3 linked regions of the Homo sapiens genome follow. Changing the gene in region 1 together with any one later gene gives a genetic interaction. Each region holds a gene or a part of one and is shown in the gene's direction. Other genes may lie near its edges.

Evidence for each region.
Region 2: changes in MED24 (region 1) and MRPL22 together harm fitness more than expected from each alone (negative genetic interaction), as found in Homo sapiens cells (one large-scale study listed by BioGRID).
Region 3: changes in MED24 (region 1) and SEH1L together harm fitness more than expected from each alone (negative genetic interaction), as found in Homo sapiens cells (one large-scale study listed by BioGRID).

The regions. Positions count from the first base shown.
Region 1 is NC_000017.11:40,052,283-40,056,033, reverse strand, and holds the start of MED24 (mediator of RNA polymerase II transcription subunit 24), read left to right. Parts: upstream 1-1,625; 5' UTR 1,626-1,673; intron 1,674-2,376; exon of another isoform or gene 2,377-2,398; 5' UTR 2,399-2,435; coding exon 2,436-2,565; intron 2,566-2,653; coding exon 2,654-2,736; intron 2,737-3,751. UniProt on the Homo sapiens protein: Component of the Mediator complex, a coactivator involved in the regulated transcription of nearly all RNA polymerase II-dependent genes.
Region 2 is NC_000005.10:154,954,563-154,958,213, forward strand, and holds part of MRPL22 (large ribosomal subunit protein uL22m), read left to right. Parts: intron 1-1,808; coding exon 1,809-1,874; intron 1,875-2,572; coding exon 2,573-2,650; intron 2,651-3,651.
Region 3 is NC_000018.10:12,978,938-12,982,588, forward strand, and holds part of SEH1L (nucleoporin SEH1), read left to right. Parts: intron 1-3,580; coding exon 3,581-3,651. UniProt on the Homo sapiens protein: Component of the Nup107-160 subcomplex of the nuclear pore complex (NPC). The Nup107-160 subcomplex is required for the assembly of a functional NPC.

The DNA.
Region 1 (3,751 bases):
GTTGGAGGCTAGGCACGGTGGCTCATGCCTACAGTCCTAGCACTCTGGGAGGCCAAGGTGGGTGGCTGAGGTCAGGATTTTGAGACCACCCTGGCCGACATGGCGAAACCCTGTCTCTACTAAAAATACAAAAATTAGTCGGATGTGGTGGCACACGCCTGTAATCCCAGCTACTTGGGAGGCTGAGGCAGGAGAATTGCTTAAACCTGGGAGGCAGAGGTTGCAGTGAGCTGAGACTGCGCCATTGCACTCCAGCCTGGGCAACAGAGCAAGCCTCCATCTCAAAAAAAAAAAAAAAAAGAATCTTTGTTGAGGAATACAGATTGAGCTTGAACTTGTGAACTAGGATATTGGGCCCTGGCTAAAGGCCTCCATGTTTATTTATTTATGTATTTTGGTAGAGCTGAGAGTCTCATTATGTTGCCCAGGCTGGATTTGAACTCCCGAGCTCAAGTGATCCTCCTTTCTCAGCCTCCCGAGTAATTTACTCTTATTCCTGGTTGTAAATGTTAGGGATGACCAGTCCATAGCATGGGGAGGGATGAGGGCTATGCATAAGAAGGCTCAGACATTGGAGCCTCCAGAGGTGGGTAACATTTGCTTTCGGGTTTCTCACTGGGGGAAGGAAAGGCTATGGCCAAAGCCCTGGGCATAATTTATATATGGATCTTTGGGATAAGCAAGATTTAAACAACAACAACAACAACAACAACAAGAAACTTAAAAAAACAAGTTTTTAATTTACAGGAAAAAAATGGAAGGTAATAGAGGGTCCCCACATATTCTGCACCCAATTTCTCTTTTTATTAACATCTTAGCATTAGTATTATGCATTTGTAACAACTAATGAACTAATATTGATACATTATTATTAATTAAAGTCCACCCTTTATTTAGATTTCCTTAGTTTTTACCCAGTATTCTTTTTCTCTTCCATGATCGCATTCAGAAAACCACATTACATTTAGTCATCAGGTCTCCTTAGCCCTCTTAGTTGTGACAGTTTCTCAGAATTCCTTTGATTTTGATCACCTTCACCTTAGTTTCCTCTTTACTTTCCCTTGTATCCAAGCTGTATGGAGGGCCTGGAGATTCTGATAGGACTGTAAGATTCGGGGACGGTGATATGTGTGCAACTAAGGCACCTCGGTGTCGCTTTTAGAATATAGTTGTGGAAATGAGAATAGCTCTGGTAGCTCCAGGGGCTTAGGAGAACAGAAAGAGCCCAGGAAAGGAGAAAGACCTTATTGCTGAACGCCACACCCTTGCCCCCACGCCACACCCTTGCCGCACCTACTAACTAGGGGCTAACGAATGAAAGGGTGTCGGAATATGATGGAGAAGCCCGGTCGACAGTGACGTCGTGGGCGACGCCGGGTTGTGAGCGGCCTTTCGAGCTCCCTCGAGTCCCTGAGTCTCTGTAGTGCCTCAGCTCCTGGATGTCCTCCCTTAAAGGAGAAGAACAATGCGGGCCGACTAGACGAGTCCCTTAGTTTCCTCGCCGGCGCAGACAAATACGGTTTCAGTCCAAGGAACTACCATTCCCAGAAGACAGCGGGGCGTTCCTTGCTGCATTTCTATTGGTTGGCGTTTGTTACTCCCAGCCAATAGAAAGTGAGCTTCTTGACAAGTGCCAAAATGGCGATGCCTACCACCTAGAACTGGATTGTGCGGTAGGCTTAAATTTGGGGAGGTGGTGGATGAAAAGGAAATTGGGAGGTATAGTTACAGGGCTGGAGAAGGTGGAGGAAATGAGGGAGCAAATCTGGACTTGGAATGGTGGTGGCCAAGGGACGCTTTTAGAGCTAAGGGCGTAATTAGGCAACCAGGACTGCCTTAACTCCTTGATGCCCTGTTTAATCTATTAGTCCCTTTGATACTTCTTTATTCATTTATTTGAGAGACGGAGTTTTGCTCTTGTTGCCCAGGCTGGAGTGCAATGGTGCGATCTCGGCTCACCCCAACAACCTCCGCCTCCCGGGTTCAAGCGATTCTACTGCCTCAGCCTCCCGAGTAGCTGGGATTACAGGCATGCACCACCAAGCCCGGCTAATTTTGTATTTTTAGTGGAGACGAGGTTTCTCCATGTTGGTCAGGCTAGTCTCGAACTCCTGACCTCCGGTGATTCGCCCGCCTCTGCCTCCCGAAGTGCTGGGATTACAGGTGCGAGCCACTGCGCTCGGCCGATACTTTCTTAGTGCCCCAGTTTAAGGAAGGGCGGTTCAGGAGGAGAGAGTCTGACAGGATCTTACTTTATCCCTTTAGCTCTTTTTCTTTCAAATTCCTCTGTCTCGCTTAAATCTTCCCGCATCTTCTCCTTTCTATTTAATTCTGCCTTCCCCGGTTCTCCTTAGAACCTCATGTCCTTTTCTTTAGCTCCATTTCTTTCACCTCAAAGCTGGCCGCCACCGCTGCCACCTGCTCAGAGTGAAATAATGAAGGTGGTCAACCTGAAGCAAGCCATTTTGCAAGCCTGGAAGGAGCGCTGGAGTGACTACCAATGGGCAATCAACATGAAGAAATTCTTTCCTAAAGGAGCCACCTGGGATATTCTCAACCTGGCAGGTCTCAAGTGAACTGGGAAAGAAAGATGGGAGGGATAAACCCAGAGAAGTTGTAATCACTCAGTTGTGTTTTGCTATTCCTCTTGCAGATGCGTTACTAGAGCAGGCCATGATTGGACCATCCCCCAATCCTCTCATCTTGTCCTACCTGAAGTATGCCATTAGTTCCCAGGTAAGCTTCCCGCAAACCCCCACCAAGAAGTGAGAGTTCTGGGGGTAAAAAACTTGGAGTGCATTTGGGCCCCGGTGGTTCATGGCTGTAATCCCAGCATTGTGGGAGGCTGAGGCAGGCGGATTGCTTGAGCCCAGGAGTTCAAGACCAGCCTGCGTAACATGGCAAAACCCAGTCTCTACCCAAAAATACAAAGAGTTACCCCTGCGTGGTGGTGCCCCTGTAGTCCCAGCTACTTGGAAGGCTGAGGTGGGAGGATCACCTGAGCCCTGGGAGGTCGAGACTGCAATGAGCCATGATCCTGCCACTGCCCTCCAGCCAGAGCAACAGAGTGAGACCCTGTCTCAGGAAAGAAACAAACAAACACAATTTGGGGTGCAGTTGTACAATTGTCAGCTTACTCTTTCTAGATGAAAGAGTAAGATTCTAGATTGATCTGTTTGAACAGATCATTTCAGTGAGTTTCAGTGTTCTCATAAAAATAATACTTCATTTGTTGTGATGAATATTACATTCACTTATTCTGCTGGGAGTGGTAGCAGGTAGCACAGGCCTGTGGCCCCACCTACTCAGAAGGTGGAGGTAGGAGGCTTGCTTGAGCCCAGGAGTTTGAGGCTACAGTGAGCACTGATTGTGCCACTGCACTCCAGCCTGGGCAACAGAACAACACTCCGTCTATTAAAAACAACAACAAGCAAAAGAAAAAAAGAGGATTACATTCACCTATTCTATCAACAAATACTCATGAATGCTTTTATGTGCCAGACAGTGCTTAGCCCCTGGGGAATATAGCTGTGAACAAAACCCGATGTCAGTACACAGAAAATTTAGTGGGTAATATAGACATGTAAATAAGCAGTCACTAGATGGGTTTATGATAAAGGTTAGGATAGAGTACAGATGCTCCTCAACTTACAATGGGGTGATGTGCTGATATACCACTCATAAGTTGAAAATGTACTTAATACACATAACTTGCCAAAGGTCATCTACCTACCTTTTTTTGAGTCAGAGT
Region 2 (3,651 bases), on another chromosome or scaffold:
AGAAAGTGCCCTTAGACATTTCACCTGCCCAAAGTAAATGCTGAGGTTTTTTTTCAGTTTTGGAAGAGGATGATTAACTTTTGCCTTTCTTGTAAACACTTCTTCCTTTTTGCCATCCTCTGGTCAGGATTACCATTGTTTATATGTGTAAAATTTGAGGGTAATCATACAAAATTAAGGTTTAAAATTATCCCACCACAAGAATGCACAAATTAAAGGGTCTCTTCTTTTTTATTTTTATTTTTTTGAGACGGAGTCTCGCTCTGTCGCCCAGGCTGGAGTGCAGTGGCGCAATCTCAGCTCACTACAAGCTCCACCTCCCGGGTTCATGGCATTCTCCCGCCTCAGCCTCCCGGGTAGCTGGGACCACAGGCGCCGGCCACCATGCCCGGCTAATTTTTTTTTTTTGTATTTTTAGTAGAGACGGGGTTTCACCATTCACAGGATGGTCTCGATCTCCTGACCTTGTGATCCGGCCGCCTCGGCCTCCCAAAGTGCTGGGATTACAGGCTGAGCCACTGCTCCCGGCCAAGGGTCTCTTCTATATGAAAGATTTCATTGAGTGGATTAATTTTTGCAGATTATTATTATCAGTCATGATAGTTCTTTCCTCTCCCTGTCTCCCCAAGAAACTTTATTGCTGAAAATGTAATTAGGCTATTGCTATAGTTTCAGGCTGTCTGCTTCTATTGCAACTGAAATCTGCCACATATTAAAAGATGGCCACTTGAGAAAACTGCTCTTTCTAAGGCATTTGAAAATTTCCAGCAGGAGTCAGAATGTTAGAAAGTTTTGAGACCTCCTTGCTATAGTTTTCCATAACACATGTTTTCTAATTTTTTTTTAAATGGCAGTTTGGTATAGTAGTGGAAAGAAAGTGGGTTTTAGAGTCAATAGAGGAACTTTTGAAAGTAGATGTGCTAGACATTGTATCAGGTGTATCATACTTCTCTGTTCTTTGAATTCCAACTTTGTCTCTTGCAAACCTCTGGTCTTAGACAAGTCACTTGATTTCTCTGATTTTCAGTTTATATGTAAAATGTTTCATCCCTCAACTCATAGAGTTAGACTAAATGAAATAATGAGTGAAAAGTGCTTTTTGAACTATACATTGTAATTAAACAGGACATACCTACAACTTTAAATAGAAGATAATAAAAGCTAACATTTACTGAGAAGTTACCATGTGCCAAGCACTATAAAATGGTTTCTTGAAATAGGTTACTTTATTTCCCTCTAATTATCGTTTTATTTATTTTACAGAAGAGGAAAATTAGAGAGAGGTTAAGTAGCTTGCTCAAGATTATGTAGCTAGTAAATGGCAGAGTTAGGATTCAAATCCAGGCAGGCAGTCTGATTCTAGAACCTATGCTGTTGGCCAAACACCTAGAATATTGGCTTTTCACATGAAAACACTTGTCCATTTTGCCATTTTTCTCCTCATTAATAATGAACGTTTTCTTGTACTTTTTCTTTTGTTCTTTTAATCAGCTAAATGTTTTAAAGATACTTTCATTTAAATCTTTTAGGATTTCTTTGGATAGAAATGTTGCAAGTGTTGACACAAACCAGCCATTGTATAGTTTCTATTTCTCCCGTAGTAATCTTTTAACATAGTGAGACTTTGGAAAAATACAACTTTGTGTAGGGGAAAATAATCTCTAAATTCTTAGTAATGTTTCTATTTCTTATGGCAGCATTTTCTTTAGGCCTAGAAAGTAAAAACTTAAATAACAGTATATGTTATTGTCATTTTGTGGTAAACCTGCTAACATTTTCTTTCTGTCCTTTTTTTTCCAATTTGTAAGGAAATCTACCACTGTCGAAGACAAATAAAATATAGCAAAGACAAGATGTGGTATTTGGCAAAATTGGTAAGCTGCAATGACTATTACCATATAATTAATAATTTAGGAAAGAAGCTATGAGTTCCCCTCCCCACCCCTCACCCCAGGATTTGAAAAATAAAAAAGATTTGTGAGGAATGTGATATAATTGGTAGGTTGTCAAAAGAATGATTGTTCAGAGATGTATGATTTTCCTTAATTTTCACCTTTTTCTGAGAAACTAAATCACATTGGATAGATAGATACTAAAAGGCATCAGGAGTTTGGCTATAACCAGAGAATCCAGGAAACCCACCTATTTATCTGTAAACTTGATTCAACCTGTTTTAAAACTGTTGCTTTTAAGTTTTTTTCCCTAGGAAATGAAATTTATAGATGAGGGGAGACTGAAGCAGCAAATATACATGTAATACATTTATCCTATAGGAGAAGGAGATGCCTTGAATGCCTAGTGTGGTTGTTACCAACCTGTGGTCTCTCTGTCATGTTTGCTGTCTTTTAATGTTATTGAAACTATTATAATCTCAGTTTTATGGTTAAAATGTTTGTTTCATTTTGACTGAAAGAGAATAGTGTCTCCTCTCAAACTTGTTTTCTTCTCTTTTATTTGGGTTCAATTCACTGTTTTTAGAAGTTACTCAAATTATGTAAGACTTTCATTGAAAAGGAAACATTGACTTTGTAAACTAATTTATTTTCTTTTGTCTCTCACCCTTTAATTCTAGATACGAGGAATGTCTATTGACCAGGCTTTGGCTCAGTTGGAATTCAATGACAAAAAAGGGGCCAAAATAATTAAAGAGGTAAACTTACAAGTTTGGGTGTGGTAGGGAATGGGGAACTGGGGAATGCAGCTGTCTTGCAATTATTAGTAAGCTTAGCCTAAATCATGAATTCCCTAAATTTTCTGTTGTAAATGCATACTTTATATAATACAGATTTAGGGTTCTCAGTTTATTAAATATGTGTATACTTTAGGAATGTTGTGTGCTTTAGGGTTTATTTCCTGAGGTGCTTTTATTTCCACCAAATATTTATCTGTTTTTTACTGCTTATGATGTGATGAATCTTATTTTTAATGATTTGGGGCTTGGTACGTATATGTGTGTATTTGTGTGTATGTATGTGTGTTTGTGTATATAATTTATTTCTTGGAGCAAGGCTGAACTTCAAGGTATATTTTTTTGAAGATTTTTTTTTTCCTATAAAGGAGAGTTTTTATAACTAAGTAATTTTGTAACTAAATGGAAAGAGCCCTGGACTGGAACTCAAGAGACTTGGACTCTAGTCCTTTCTCTGATCTTTTTCTTGTGACCGTGGGCAAGACACTTAACCAGTCAGTTTCTATTTTTCTCACCTAAACTATGTGGAATTGGATTAGATGACCCCTAAAGATCCTTCCAACTCTAAATGTAGCTAATTCACTAGATACAAATGTGCTGATGGTAATTGTGGTGACTCTTTCTAGGAACATGAATATTCTTTTTTTATTACATATATTTTTCTTTTTTTTTTTTTTTTTTTTGAGACGGAGTCTAGCTCTGTTGCACAGGCTGGGGTGCAGTGGCGCCATCTTGGCTCACTGCAGTCTCCGCCTCCTGCGTTCAAGCGATTCTTCTGCCTCAGCCTCCCGAGTAGCTGGGACTACAGCTGCGCGCCACCATACGCGGCTAATATTTTTGTATTTTTAGTAGAGATGGGATTTCACCATATTGGCCAGGCTGGTCTTGAACTCCTGACCTCAGGCGATCCGCCCACCTCAGCCTCCCAAAGTGCTGGGATTACAGGCGTGAGCCACCGCGCC
Region 3 (3,651 bases), on another chromosome or scaffold:
TGATTACCTTTGTTTGTGGAGGAGAGAGTAGAGGTAACTATGATTTGGTTTATATTTCTGCTCTGGAAGTTTTACTTAAAAATGTAAACTTTGAAATGTTTTTTAAAAATGGTCTTTTACAGTTACTTTTTTTTCTTTCTTTTTTTTTTTATTGATCATTCTTGGGTGTTTCTCCCAGAGGGGGATTTGGCAGGGTCATAGGACAATAGTGGAGGGAAGGTCAGCAGATAAACAAGTGAACAAAGGTCTCTGGTTTTCCTAGGCAGAGGACCCTGCGGCCTTCTGCAGTGTTTGTGTCCCTGGGTACTTGAGATTAGGGAGTGGCGATGACTCTTAACGAGCATGCTGCCTTCAAGCATCTGTTTAACAAAGCACATCTTGCACCACCCTTAATCCATTCAACCCTGAGTGGACACAGCACATGTTTCAGAGAGCACAGGGTTGGGGGTAAGGTCACAGATCAACAGGATCCCAAGGCAGAAGAATTTTTCTTAGTATAGAACAAAATGAAAAGTCTCCCATGTCTACTTCTTTCTACACAGACACGGCAACCATCCGATTTCTCAATCTTTTCCCCACCTTTCCCCGCTTTCTATTCCACAAAACCACCATTGTCATCATGGCCTGTTCTCAATGAGCTGTTGAGTACACCTCCCAGACGGGGTGGTGGCTGGGCAGAGGGGCTCCTCACTTCCCAGTAGGGGCGGCCGGGCAGAGGCGCCCCTCACCTCCCGGACGGGGTGGCTGGCTGGGCGGGGGGCTGACCCCCCCACCTCCCTCCCGGACGGGGCGGCTGGCCGGGCGGGGGGCTGACCCCCCCACCTCCCTCCCGGACGGGGCGGCTGTCCGGGCAGAGGGGCTCCTCACTTCCCAGTAGGGGCGGCCGGGCAGAGGCACCCCTCACCTCCCGAATGGGGCGGCTGGCCGGGCGGGGGGCTGACCCCCCCACCTCCTTCGCGGACGGGGCGGCTGGCCGGGCAGAGGGGCTCCTCACTTCCCAGTAGGGGCGGCCGGGCAGAGGTGCCCCTCACCTCCCGGACGGGGCGGCTGGCCGGGCGCGGGGCTGACCCCCCCACCTCCCTCCCGGACGGGCGGCTGACCCCCCCACCTCCCTCCTGGACGGGGCGGCTGGCCGGGCGGGGGGCTGACCCCCCCCCACCTCCCTCCCGGACAGGGCGGCTGTCCGGGCAGAGGGGCTCCTCACTTCCCAGTAGGGGCGGCCGGGCAGAGGCACCCCTCACCTCCCGGATGGGGCGGCTGGCCGGGCGGGGGGCTGACCCCCCCACCTCCCTCCCGGACGGGGCGGCTGGCCCCCCCACCTCCCTCCCGGTCGGGGCGGCTGGCCGGGCAGAGGGGCTCCTCACTTCCCAGTAGGGGCGGCCGGGCAGAGGCGCCCCTCACCTCCCGGACAGGGCGGCTGGCAGGGCGGGGGGCTGACCCCCCCACCTCCCTCCCGGACGGGGCGGCTGGCCGGGCGGGGGGCTGACCCCCCAACCTCCCTCCCGGACGGGGCGGCTGGCCGGGCGGGGGGCTGATCCCCCAACCTCCCTCCCGGACGGGGCGGCTGGCCGGGCGGGGGGCTGACCCCCCCACCTCCCTCCCGGACGGGGCGGCTGGCCGGGCGGGGGGCTGACCCCCCCACCTCCCTCCCGGACGGGGCAGCTGGCCGGGCAGAGGGGCTCCTCTCTTCCCAGTAGGGGCGGCCGGGCAGAGGCGCCCCTCACCTCCCAGACAGGGTGGCTGGCAGGGCGGGGGGCTGACACCCCCCACTTCCCTCCCGGACGGGGCGGCTGGCCGGGCAGAGGGGCTCCTCACTTCCCAGTAGGGGCGGCCGGGCAGAGGCGCCCCTCACCTCCCGGACGGGGCGGCTGGCCGGGCGGGGGGCTGACCCCCCCACTTCCCTTCCGGACGGGGCGGCTGGCCGGGCGGGGGGCTGACCCCCCCCACCTCCCTTCCGGACGGGGCGGCTGGCCGGGCGGGGGGCTGACCCCCACCTCCCTCCCGGACGGGGTGGCTGCCGGGCGGAGATGCTCCTCACTTCCCAGACGGGGTGGCTGCCGGGCGGAGGGGCTCCTCACTTCTCAGACGGTGTGGCTGCCGGGCGGAGGGGCTTCTCACTTCTCAGACGGGGCGGTTGCCAGGCAGAGGGTCTCCTCACTTCTCAGACAGGGCGGCCGGGCAGAGATGCTCCCCACATCTCAGATGATGGGCGGCCGGGCAGAGACGCTCCTCACTTCCTAGATGGGATGGCGGCCGGGCAGAGACGCTCCTCACTTTCCAGACTGGGCAGCCAGGCAGAGAGGCTCCTCACATCCCAGACGATGGGTGGCCAGGCAGAGACGCTCCTCACTTCCCAGACGGGGTGGCGGCCGGGCAGAGGCTGCAATCTCGGCACTTTGGGGGGCCAAGGCAGGCAGCTGGGAGGTGGAGGTTGTAGCGAGCCGAGATCACGCCACTGCACTCCAGCCTGGGCACCATTGAGCACTGAGTGAATGCAACTCCGTCTGCCATCCCGGCACCTCGGGAGGCCGAGGCTGGCGGATCACTCGCGGTTAGGAGCTGGAGACCAGCCCGGCCAACACCTACAGTTACTTTTAAATTAATGTCATTTTTGAAGAATGGATTATTTAATGAACATTTTATATATAAATATATGTCTTTTTGGAAAGGGGAATTGAGTCAAGAGCAGATTTATATTCTCTTAACTGTGCTTTATTTAGGCTGAAACTAACAATTCTCCAAATATAACTGATAATCTATAAATATTTAATGACAAGTGGCAGTCTATTTAGGGAAAACTAAATTAGTATTGAGACAGTCTTGTGAATAACATATTTAACTTTAATTTTGAATTGTGAATTTCAGTTCTTTTCTTTCCATTCTTTCATTCTTTCCTACTTGCTGCCCTGCCCATTTTTTTTTTTTTTTTTTTTTTTTTTTGAGGCAAGGTCTCACTCCGTTGCCCAGGCTGGAGGGCAGTGGCTTGATCTTGGCTCACTGCAACCTCCACCTCCCAGGTTCAAGCAATTCTCATGCCTCAGCCTCCTGAGTAGCTGGGACTACAGGCGCCCGCCACCATGCCTGGCTAATTTTTTATTTTGTATTTTTAGTAGGGATGGGGTTTCGCCATGTTGGCCAGGCTGGTCTTGAACTCCTGGCCTCAAGTGATCTGTCCACCTTGGCCTCCCAAAGTGCTGCGATTACAGGTGTGAGCAACTGCACCTGGCCTTGCCCTGCCTTTTTAAATTAATTATTGTCATCTATTTTATTCTTCTGCCTTGTGTGGGAGAATAAAATCATCCTGTTTTGTTGTTTCTTTCTTCCATGAAACAGTCACTGAGTATCATTTATGTGCTGGGATCACTCCAGGTCTTGGCGAGTTAAATGAAAATGACATTGGCCCAGCTCAAGGGCCAAGGTGTGGGGTTTGGGCAGATGTGCACATTATTATAAAGTGATGTGGTGGCGAGACCACTTGTATTAATTTAGAATTTTACGTGTGTATATATATATGTGTGTGTATATATATATGTTTTAAAACTTTGTTTGGAATGCCTCAGAAAATGTTTTTTATTAACAGGAAAGAACTGACTTCCTCTGGTGGGCCAACAAAGTTTGAAATCCATATAGTGGCTCAGTTCGATAATCATA